2 linked regions of the Homo sapiens genome follow. The protein of the gene in region 2 interacts with the protein of the main gene of each other region in a biochemical or structural test. Each region holds a gene or a part of one and is shown on either strand. Other genes may lie near its edges. The genes, in order: TLR4 and SIGLEC9.

Region 1 (4,120 bases), on a different chromosome or scaffold from region 2:
CTTGGGCCTCCTAAATGCAAGGCACCACAAACCAGTGGGCTTAATGCTGAGACATTACCTAGGCTTCTGTCGGGCTGTATGCTCCCCATTTCATAATGAAAGCACACAAAAAATTAGCATTTTTGATGACTGTGAAGTGCCTTGCACTGTTTTAAGCACTTTGTTTGTATAAGCACTCATTTAATATATCATCCTTAACTGACAGATAAGCAAATTGAGACATAGTCCAGATAAATGTCTTTGTCAGGGTCAACTGATGCCAATTAACTATTAGCTTTCATGTAATTCAGTATTTATACTATATTGTTTCTTTCCTCAACTCTGCTATACATGGTCTTCTACTTATTACTTCCCAGATTTATCATTTACATTTTTGCTCTTCTTTTAGGTTAAGAATTTAAAGATCCATCTGCAGAGCTGTTCTTTTACAATTTCCAGCTCAAATGGGCCCTCCTCTGTAAAGCCTTCTCTGATTGCTTCTAGGAAGAACAACCCTCCACTCCCCACCACCCTGCATTTTGGCATAACATTGTGTGTGTGTGTGTGTGTGTGTGTGTGTGTGTGTGTGTGTGTGTATTGACATGCCTCTCTTGCCAAAATGAATCTGAACTCCGTAACTTTGAGGGCACTTCTTGGTCATTTACTTCTGCAGCTTCATGTGCCTTTTCAACCACAGAGTAGCTTCTTCATAAATATTAGATGGCCAGATGAGTAAAATAAAGAACACTCTCAAGGAGAAAAAAGAAAGTGAGAACTTTATTTCCGTGTACTGAACTGCCAACAAAACTGAGAGGTAGATATTATCCCCATTTTAAGCCGAGACAAACAAGACAGATACCATAAGACAGGATCAGAACACAGATCTGTCTGATTCCCAAAGCTTTTGTTCTCTCTAATACATGAGAAGAAAGACAGGCACATTAATGGTCACATGCAGAAGCGGTTAATGGAGTTCACAGACAAGAAAGGAAGAAAGAGAGCAAGGAGAAAATGAACATCAAAAAATAAGGAAGTTGGAATACTGACAGGTCAAAGCAGAGAGAAAGACAAGACTTACTAAGCAAGAACTAACTTAGTGCACAATAAGAAAATGCAAAGGAAGGAAGATTGTGGTGACATTTAGAGAGCTTAGAATGGCAACAGAATTGAGCTTCAGATATTTGGAAGAGTTTTATTCAAAACCGTGGCAAGAGCCAGAAAAAGTAAAGGGCAGAGACAAGGGCCTGCAGCAGGCAAGGAGGAAGCATGATTTAGAGACAGATGCCACAGCTCAGGAAGGGAGCGGCTTGACCCTGCTGCTTGGAAAGGGGCATGCCTGGGAGTGCTGGCACTAAGGACACTGTTGGTTGCTATTTGCAGTGGCATAAGGATGAAGGATGATAGCAGCCCTATAGTGATATAAGGGACCATCATGAATGGCATTTCAAGAAAGAAAGCAGGAAGGAATGAGGAACCAGAGTTCTCTGTTTTTATCAATCCACAACTGTGAAATTTATGAAGAAAGTTTACTCTCAACTGACAAGCATTCACATATGGTAAGAGGCACAAGGGGTCGAATGGTACCTCTGTGACTAACAGTGTAGGAGCCTGGGAGATATCACTTTAAATGTCAAGTATGGGAAAGAAGAAAGAATAATTGCAAGGATTAGTCCACAAAAGTGCTTGAGTTTAGAGAAACTGTATTCTTCTCCTTTAAGATAATTAAAACTGACCAAGTATACACATTGCTGAAATAGAGGAGACTCCTGTAAGAATGACATATAGCTTAATTTAAAAGCTTTTGGAATATGTAGGCAAAATGGAAGATATTCTTGAGTTTATAACATGGGGCAAAAGAGAAACTCCTCCTTGGAGGAGTTTTCAATCTGTTATCATAATAACTCCTTGCATTTATGTAGCACTTCCCTAAATTTTATTGGAGGCTCTGTCTCATTTCATTCTCAAAACTTTCACAGAAGACAGCGTAAAAATAACGTTATCTCATAGATAAACAGAGACCAAAGAGCAAAGAGATCAAGAGATTTGCCTTTGTTCAACAGCCTGTTAGTGGTGGAGCCATTTCACTATCAATGTCTTGTTTCCACAGCCTTTCACCTATAACTCAATGGGGTTGATAGCTTAATCCTTTTCAGAAATGAGGGAACATGGGAAATATTATAAATACATGGATACATCATGACTTGACGAATGAGTCTCCCGTTTTGATATAGCATCATCAGGTTTAGAACGCTAAAACCACATGTTAAGGATGCTGGAAAATCTGGATGATGAAGTTACACCTCTAATCATAGAATAGAATTCCTGGAATGGACATTTACTCCAATTGCCACAATTTATAGGTAAGGAAACAGCCCTGGAGATGTGAACATGCTAGAATGTCAGAGAGCTGGCCTGACCCTCAGCAGCCGTTTGGTTCATTCCTTTCTGACTGCCAATCTTTCTTGTGACACCTTCAAAATTTTTCCAAATCTGCATACCTTTTATATAATTCATTTCATCCCGTTTTTTTCCTAAGTTGGCCCACATTTTAAACTTAAATATATTTTAAAGAGATAATTGATTCTTAGCTAGTCACAAAATTTATTATAAATAAAAGTAACCATGAAAATAAACATATAACCACTAAAGGTAATACATTCATCTGTCAACCACATAAAATCATCTTATTTACTAACATGTCACACTTTTGAAAATGCTGATCTGACCTAAATGTCCCATTTTACAAATGAGAGACCTGAGCCCAGAGGTGCGCTCCCGGTGGCAGACCTGAATCCTAAACCTCACTACCTCTATCGCTGTTCACTTATCTGATCTCAGCTGTTAATATGCCAGAAACTGGCAAAGGTATTCCCTGCCTTTAGTGGTGCTAGACTCTCAGGTGCTGAAACCACAGCTAATTCAGCCAAAGATGATGTGTAGAGAGGACTCAGAAGGCCCTATTAATAACTCAGCTGAGCACAGCACTAGCCAGATATTCATCCCCTGCCATTAATTTCAAAAGTGCTCTTTGCAAGCAGGAAAATTTTGACAGCAGGTGTTTCCCACTGGGGAGCAGTAGACTCCTCAGAAGACTCAGGGTCTCAGCTTAAAGACCAAAACTACTGAATTTCAACCGTCAGTGATCACTTCCCCAATTCCCCTCAACGATAAGGAAAAAGGAGTTTCTGGGAAGATTGGCAGTGGCCCAGCAAGTTTTCGCAAGGAAATCCTGTGTTTTTCAGAGGGGAAAGTCATTTTTGGAATCTTAGTACTCAAGGCAAGATGAATACTTAGCAAAAGTGGAGTTAAATTTTACTTTGATATATTTTGGACTGGAAACAAAAAACAACATCACATTGACAACAGATGCCTCAGAGAGTTTAGAAAAGACCACAACATTTTTCTGGTATATATTTATGTGGGGTCTCAGCTACCCAGGATGATAAAGAAGGGAAAATGACAACGTGATAGGTAGAAACTAGGAGAACTAAAATGATTGCATGGACACAACATCTAAATGGATGTAGTGAGCTCACCATCAAATAGGCCAATCCTAGTATCCCAAAGAGTCTGATCTAGTGGGATTGAGAAGAATCAACTATACAGTGTAAAATAAAAATACATTATCTGACCTTGCCTGGGCTATCATGAATCTTAGCAATAAATCTCAAGAACAAAACCAATAACCATATTAAATGTGGGTGGTTATTCTCCATTTTCCATTATAACAGTAATTCCCAAATCTGTCTGTGCACGAAAACTGGGAGAATATTTTAAAATATAAATTCCTTAGGACTAACCTCTGATATTGAACCAGAATTTCTAGCAATAAAGATCATAAAGATAGATAATTAGTACCTAGATACACAGACACATAGATAGCAGAATGAAAGTCATTAAGTGATTCTTAAGCCAAGCATTTGTTTAAAAGTGAGAGTTTGGGACCTGCTCAACTTTGTCATCTTCATATATGGTTTCCATTTTAATCGTTGTATTGAAATAAAATCAGCTGTAGACTGCCTGGAATTCTTTGTCAAAATGAAGTTTGCAAAAAGAGGCTAGAAGAAGATAGAAAAGATGTAAGAGAGAGAGCAAGTGATTTGGAGACACAAGATCAAGGAACCGATCTTGGGATAGAAAA
Region 2 (8,131 bases):
AGACCCAGAGGGGTCCTGAGCGGGGAGCGGGGTCAGTGTCTGAGCCTCTCCTTCTCTCCCCAGGGGCTTTGGCTTAGGATCCAGGAGATGGCCTTAGAGTGCAGGAGCTGGTGACGGTGCAGGAGGGAATGTGCAGGCATGTGCTCTGCGCTGTTTTCTACCCCAAGTATTACTGGGCAGGATCCGGCCTAGCTCATGGTTACTGCCAACAGGATGAAGCCACTCCTGGAAGGAACACTCCAGTGGCTACAAACAACCCCAAACAATTGCAGGAGAAGAACCAGGGCCAGTTCACCTCGTTGGTCATCCCCAGACCTACAGCTGCTCCCTGAACCTCAGAGATGCCAATGAGGCGGATACAGGGACGTACTTCTTTCAGGTGGAGAGAGGTTATTACATGAAATACAGTTACGGAAATGAGAAGTTGTTCTTGCATGTGACAAGTAGAGGAAAGTCCCAGAAAAGGAGCTCTTTCTCCTCATTCGGGGTCATGGGAAGCATTCAGGGGCCCTGGGGTGGGGCTCTGGCACAGGGAGTGCCCCCACTCCCAGAAACAGGAATCAGCCCCTTTCTCTTTTCTAGTGCTGACCCAGCCACCTGAGATCCATGTCCAGAAGAGCTGCAATCAGGTGACCCTGGAAATCTGACTTGCACCGTATCATGGGCCGGTGAGAAGGGAACCCCACCAAATTTCTTCTGGATAAGAGAAGCCACCAATTTTACAGTCTCCAAGACCCCTCTTCCCGACCAGTCCTCAGTTCTCAGCCTTATCCCACAGCCATGTGACCATGGCAGCAACCTCACCTGTCAGGTGAAGTTCCTCCGAGCTGGTGTGACCATGGGGAGAACCATCCAGCTCAATGTCTCTTATGAGTGGTGGATCAGGACCCCCATGCCCAGGGCCCTGAGAACAATGGGTGTCAGGAGGGAAGGGAGGTCAGAATCAGGAATTCTTTTTTTTTTTTTTTTTTAAGACAGAGTCTCGCTATGTCACCCAGGCTTGAGTGCAGTGGCGCAATCTCTGCTCACTGCAGCCTCCGCCTTCCAGGCTCAAGCGATCCTCCTGCCTCAGCCTCCCAAGTAGCAGAGACTACAGGTGGCACCACCATGTCCAGCTAATTTTTAAATTTTGGGCAGAGATGGGTTCTCACTGTGTCACCCAGTTTGGTGTTGAACTCTTAGGCTCAAGTGATCCTCCTGCCTCGGCCTCCCAAAGTGTTGGGATTACAGGCGTGCACCACTGTGCCTGGCCAGAGTATGAGTTTTTTTGTTTTTTGTTTTGAGATGGAGTCTCGCTCTGTCACCCAGGCTGGAATGCAGTGACATGATCTCGGCTCACTGTAACCTATGCCTCCCGAGTTCAGGTGATTCTTATGCCTCGGCCTCTGGAGTAGCTGGGATTACAGGCACCTGCCACCATGCCCGGCTCACCCTTGCCTGGCTCAGCTTTGAGCTCTGTCTTGATGCCTCTCCTACTTTCTGCCCCTTGATCCTCCTCTTATGCATGGCGTCTCTCTTCCCCCATTTACCCCATTCAGGATGCAGCACTTCCTCCAAATGTCACCCTTTTCATCCACTGTACTCATGAGCCAGTGGGTGCTGTAACTTCCCTTCCTGAACAATGTCTCCCGTCATGCCCTCCTTGCTTAGTCCCCTGTCCTCCATCAGCATGACCAGGCCCTTTGCTGTCTTTTTTTTTTTTTTTTTTTTGAAGATGAAGTTTCGCTCTTGTCGTCCAGGCTGGAGTGCGGTGGCAGGATCTCGGCTCACTGCAACCTCCGCCTCCTTGGTTCAAGTGATTCTCCTGCCTCAGCCTTCTGAGTAGCTGGGATTACAGGAGCATGCCACCATGCCTGGCTAATTTTTGTACTTTTAGTAGAAACAACTTTTCACCATGTTGGTCAGGGTGGTCTCGAACTCCTTGACCTCAGGTGATCCAACCGCCTTGGCCTCCCAAAGTGCTGGGGTTACAGATCTGAGCCGCCGCACCCAGCCTCTTTGCTGTCTTGATCATTGTTCCATGCCCCTCCCCAGCCTCCCATCTTCCCTTCATGCTGTGCCCCTGATAGCACAAGCCCAGAAAGACCTTCCTGTACCCAGTACCAGCCCCACCCCTTCCTGGCCCAGAGTCCCCTGTGACTCCTCGGCACCCTCAGTCTAAGCTCCTCAGCTGGTCATGCCCCAACACCTCCATGTCCCCTTGGAAGACCCCAGATATATGTGCAGGTCTCTTCATCTGCCAGACTGTTTCAGAGCCTTTGCACATCCCTCGTCCTTCACTTGTGATGCCTGTCTGTCTTGCGTCAATATGACCCACTCCCCCTTCCAATCTCAGTTCAGCCTCCTTCCCTCCAGGGTCTGTCAGCTAGCGTGGACTCCGGGATTTGTGTACATAAGAGCATGAGCCGGGCCAGGCTTGGTGGCTCACGCTTGTAATGCCAGCACTTTGGGAGGCTGAGGTGGGCAGATCACGAGGTCAGGAGTTCAAGACCAGCCTGACCAACATGGTGAAATCCCGTCTCTACTAAAAATACAAAAATTAACCTGGCGTGGCGGCACATGCCTGTAATCCCAGCTACTCAGGAGGCTGAGGCAGGAGAATCGCTTGAACGTGGGAGGCGGAGCTTGCAGTGAGCTGAGATCACGGCACTGTACTCTAGCCTGGGTGACAGAGCAAGACTCCATCTCAAAAAAAAAAAAAAAAAGCATGAGTCAAACAGTCATGTGTCTTCTGTCTCATTCCGAATGGGAGGTAAGGGAGAAACCGACCTCTCAGCACCACTCTTCCTGCTTTCTCTGTTTTTTTCGTCCAGCCCCAAAGACCCTGAACAATGGTACACCACTGCCTGTCCTGGAGGGAGAGTCCCTGTGGTCTGTGTGGCTGACAGCACCCCACCTCCCAACCCCGCCCGGCTGAGCTGGTCCTGAGAGGGAAGAACACTGAATTCCTCCCAGCTCTCAGCACCCGGGGGCCTGGAGCTGCCTCAGATAGGGGCTGGGACGGAGGAGCATTGACCTGTTGGGCTCACCACCCACTGCGATTTCAGCACATTTCCCTGAGCCTCTGTGCAGAGTGAGTTGCAGGACAGCTGCTGAGGCAGGCAGCCTAGTCGGGTGTTTGGGCTGTCAGAGGGGTGGAGGCCTGGGAACAGAATCTCACACGCTTCTACCCTTTCCCAGGAAGCCCCTCTGGCTACAGATGTGTGAGTGAAAAGCAGGAGGGCTTCTGGCCCCTGGTTCTCACCTGATCAGGGGGCCATCCTGGGCACTGGCTTCCCCCCAACCCCCATGGCCTCACCTGGAGCTACTACTCCAGGTGAGCAGGCCTGCTCTTTTCTAGGGAAGCCGAAGGATTGTTCCCCGAGTTCCAGGTGGGGCTGAGCTGTCCTGTCCCGCCTGAGTTAGAATTGAAGTGGCCGATGCTAATCTGAGGCCCGTGTTGGCTCTGCAGGTGTGGAGGGCCCCAGGGGAGCAGTGCTGAGAGGCCTGACTGAGCCCCTCCTGCTCAAGACAGAACTCAGATGTGGACACCCAGCCCTGCAGAACAGATGCAGGACAACACTGTCAGCCATGGCTCAGCCCTTCTGACCATTGCAGTTGAGATGCTGCAACTTCCCAGGGAGCGACTGGGCAAACATGGGGGCCTGAGGTATTCACGGCAACGTGCACAGATGATAAAACTACCTAGAAAAGCATGGAGACCATTAGCGTTAAAGTGAGGCTGGGGCTGCTTCAGGAGGAAGTGGGGTGTGGCTGACAGGAAGTGGGGTAACAAAGAGGAGGTGTTGCGGCATCCCCAGTGTTCTGTTTCTCTAAGCATGTTCATATGTGTAAACCGCTGAGATTTTTTCTTGGGGGGAAGACATTTTTATCTATATGGCTTATATTTCTCCCAAAAATATTTCTAGAAAACTGACATCGGTCTAAGGAGGCTCCACCACACAGGATACTCCCAGTTCCTCCCAGCCCAGCCACACAGTTACAAAAAATCTTCTGCTGAATTCAGGTGCATGTTTCTTCTCCCATGAAATCCTGCCCATCGCGGAGGGTGCATGCCCCGGGGCTGGTGTCCTCACTCCACATCTCCTGTTCACCGGGACCCCTGGGAGCAGAGCTTGCAGAAGCAAAGCCCCAGGGCCAGCTGATCCCTCATGTTCTGGAGTAACCAGGGAAGTGTGGCTGAGCGAGACATCGGTGGTGAAGAAACCCTTCGTGGTGCAGTGAGGAAAGGAGAAATATCTTCCCTTTTGAAATCTGCCCCTTTTCTTCCGAATTTCCTCCCTTCCAAGCCCCACAGTACAACAGTCACAGCCTCAGTTTCCCAGACCTCCTGCGAGCCAGGCTCCCCTCTGTGTCCTTGGCGTGTATCAACACATAGAATCCTCACCTCCACAGCCCCATGTCCCTCTGCTCAGTCCTCCTGAGATTGAACCCCTGACCTACGGGAGAGTGACCCCATCCTGCCTGTGCCCCCCAACTGAAGCTCCTGCCGTGGACAGCTCAGACGTCAGGAGCCTCCATGTCTCCCCTCCGCACAGTGACCCCTTGGGGACAGTGTCCAGCTCTGCTGTGTTGACCTCGTTGTGCAGAAAGGGGGTGCCCACCTCGTGCTTGCTTGGGGGGGATGAGAGGCTGCCTGCTCACCCCACCTGCACCCCCATCTCTCATGGCCCCAAGTCCCACCTCTGAGCTACGCAGATATCCACAGCCTCTGACTCAGGGGTCTGGCCAGATGGGACTCATTTTCACCCTGCAGAAAATGTCACCTAAGGGGAAGGGCATTGAGAGGGAGGCAGGAGGTGGGGTGGGCCCTGCATGGGGTGGGAATCTGGGTGAGTCTGTCTCCCGCTCTGGCCTCAGGGACCCAGGAGTGAACATGGGGTGGTGGACGGTGGATCTCCCAGGGCTGACCCGGGCCTGACAGTGTCTGGGTGTAAAGTTCCTCCTCTGAGGAGGTCACTGTTCCGACCTCGCCCCTGTCTTCCTGTAGGGCCTCCTCTAAGTCTTGAGCCCGCAGTTCCTGAGAGAAGAACCCTGAGGAACAGACGTTCCCTCGCGGCCCTGGCACCTCTAACCCCAGACATGCTGCTGCTGCTGCTGCCCCTGCTCTGGGGGAGGGAGAGGGCGGAAGGACAGACAAGTAAACTGCTGACGATGCAGAGTTCCGTGACGGTGCAGGAAGGCCTGTGTGTCCATGTGCCCTGCTCCTTCTCCTACCCCTCGCATGGCTGGATTTACCCTGGCCCAGTAGTTCATGGCTACTGGTTCCGGGAAGGGGCCAATACAGACCAGGATGCTCCAGTGGCCACAAACAACCCAGCTCGGGCAGTGTGGGAGGAGACTCGGGACCGATTCCACCTCCTTGGGGACCCACATACCAAGAATTGCACCCTGAGCATCAGAGATGCCAGAAGAAGTGATGCGGGGAGATACTTCTTTCGTATGGAGAAAGGAAGTATAAAATGGAATTATAAACATCACCGGCTCTCTGTGAATGTGACAGGTAAGGCACAGGCTCCAGGAAAGGCCACAGGGAAAGGTCATGGGGGCGGCAGGGAAAGGCTGGGATGGAGCCCCTGCCCCAGGAGAGGGCTTAGGGTGAAGCGAGTTGGCTCAGGGCAGGAGCTGGACCAGAGCCTGAGCTCCCCCCAGGGCTGCACCATGGATCCTCTGACCTGATCCTGAGTCCCCCTCTCTTCACCAGCCTTGACCCACAGGCCCAACATCCTCATCCCAGGCACCCTGGAGTCCGGCTGCCCCCAGAATCTGACCTGCTCTGTGCCCTGGGCCTGTGAGCAGGGGACACCCCCTATGATCTCCTGGATAGGGACCTCCGTGTCCCCCCTGGACCCCTCCACCACCCGCTCCTCGGTGCTCACCCTCATCCCACAGCCCCAGGACCATGGCACCAGCCTCACCTGTCAGGTGACCTTCCCTGGGGCCAGCGTGACCACGAACAAGACCGTCCATCTCAACGTGTCCTGTGAGTGCTGGGCCGGGACGCCTGGGTCCCTGATGGGGTGAGCGTCAAGCCTGGACACTGGGTGCTGGGTCCCGGAATCTGGGCTGGTGGTGGGGTCAGGAGGACACTGGCTCTGCCTTCCCTGTTTATGCGGCTCCTGGGGACAGACAGGGCCAGTGTCCCCAGCCCTCACAGTGATGCGGGTCTCCATGTCTTTCTGTCCCAGACCCGCCTCAGAACTTGACCATGACTGTCTTCCAAGGAGACGGCACAGGTAGGATGGAGCTCCCTCCCTGGGGCTGGAGGAGCAGGGCCTTCAGGTCAGGATGGGGCTGGCTTATTCCTCAACCTGGACTCACTTTGGCAAACAGGGATGTCCTTGTGGGTGAACTCAGGGCCCCTCTGTATCCTTAGGCCCCAAGGCCACTTGTTCCCATCCTCCCATCACCTCCCTTGGACTCCCCCACACACCCCCCCCTCAGCCTCAAACAAGAAGAGGGTGGCATTCACACAGCAGGACCAGGCTTTGAGGCTCCTTCTCATGTATCTCCTGAATACATCTCCACCCTTATCTGTTTATTTCTGATAGTTCTGATCTAAGTACTTCTGGACAGGTGATAAATGTCCATGGGCAAAAATTCAAATTGCAGAGCAAAGGCTCTCCTCCGATGCCTGCCCCCCTCCCCAGAACCAACCACTGTCCATCCAGGCTGCCCTGAGTCTCGGTTTGTACACCTGGAGGATCTCAGAGGTGGTTTGACGTCCGTAGTGAGACTGTCCGCACCCTCCTCTAGGGCTGTGTGTGAGTCCACTGCATGGATGGACTCTGATTTTGTGGCATCTCCTAATGGAAGATCACGGCACTAATTTCATCCTACGGCAGGATAGAACAATCTTGTATCTACTTCCACAGGAATATCTAAGCCTGTGGGTTAAGTTCCTAAAAGCAAAATGTAGCTACATTATATGTTCTTTCTTATTTTGAAAGATAAGCCCAAACTGTTCTCGATGAAGCGGGGAGAAGTTTACATTCCCAGCAGTGAGTGGTGAAAGTGTGTGTTTCCAGAACTTCAGTCTATGTCTGTGTGTCAGTTGCTGTCATCAGTCTCTTTCTGTATCCTTCCTTTTTCTCCAGATCTATGTATCTCTCTGACCCTCTGTCTCTTTTTCTACAGTATCCACAGTCTTGGGAAATGGCTCATCTCTGTCACTCCCAGAGGGCCAGTCTCTGCGCCTGGTCTGTGCAGTTGATGCAGTTGACAGCAATCCCCCTGCCAGGCTGAGCCTGAGCTGGAGAGGCCTGACCCTGTGCCCCTCACAGCCCTCAAACCCGGGGGTGCTGGAGCTGCCTTGGGTGCACCTGAGGGATGCAGCTGAATTCACCTGCAGAGCTCAGAACCCTCTCGGCTCTCAGCAGGTCTACCTGAACGTCTCCCTGCAGAGTGAGTGCACCAGTATGCTGGGGAGGGGCTGGAGAGGAGAACACACCTCCTCCACCCTTAGTAACTGCTGAGCGTGGACCTTCAGAGAGGAGCTCCGCTCTGGTCTGTGCTCAGCTGTGAGGTCTGGAACTTCCCTGGGACCCACAGCACCACTGTCCTCTTCCTGCCAGGGAAGGGTTGTGGGGTGGGGAGAGGGCAGGAGTGGATCTCAGAGGGGACAGGATGGGGCCGGACAGGTGTGTTTAGGGAGACAAGCGCCTTTCTTTGCAGGGCTGAACTGGAGTCACACAACTGAGATACTTGCTTTGAGCATCAAATTAAAAAAAAGAAAAAGCCCAGCAAGTCAGCAATCAAATGAAATCATATTGCAATGCAATAATCTTTTAAAAAAAGTAAAAATTGAATGCAAAACAAATTCATTAATGGATAAAATATTAAAATTGTGAAAAAAAACCCCAAAAGGAATGGCTGGCACTTGCACGCCTCACTGGCCTCAGGAAGAGTCTCTCCATGTCCTGCTCTCTCTCATTCCTGTTCTTTGTGTCTGGAAAGGGGAAGTGGAAATAGAAGTCTAGGACCCTACAGGAAGTGGGAGGAGAAGAGACCCAATTCTCTATGATATATCACAAAAATAACTCCCATCTGTCAACAGGCAAAGCCACATCAGGAGTGACTCAGGGGGTGGTCGGGGGAGCTGGAGCCACAGCCCTGGTCTTCCTGTCCTTCT

Evidence for each region.
Region 1: the proteins of SIGLEC9 (region 2) and TLR4 form a complex in vitro, tested with the Homo sapiens proteins (one study listed by IntAct).

The regions. Positions count from the first base shown.
Region 1 is NC_000009.12:117,721,345-117,725,464, reverse strand, and holds the end of TLR4 (toll-like receptor 4 isoform A precursor), read right to left. Parts: 3' UTR 730-4,120; downstream 1-729.
Region 2 is NC_000019.10:51,119,893-51,128,023, forward strand, and holds the start of SIGLEC9 (sialic acid-binding Ig-like lectin 9 isoform 2 precursor), read left to right. Parts: upstream 1-5,013; 5' UTR 5,014-5,082; coding exon 5,083-5,503; intron 5,504-5,704; coding exon 5,705-5,983; intron 5,984-6,188; coding exon 6,189-6,236; intron 6,237-7,137; coding exon 7,138-7,404; intron 7,405-8,056; coding exon 8,057-8,131. UniProt on the Homo sapiens protein: Putative adhesion molecule that mediates sialic-acid dependent binding to cells. Preferentially binds to alpha-2,3- or alpha-2,6-linked sialic acid. The sialic acid recognition site may be masked by cis interactions with sialic acids on the same cell surface.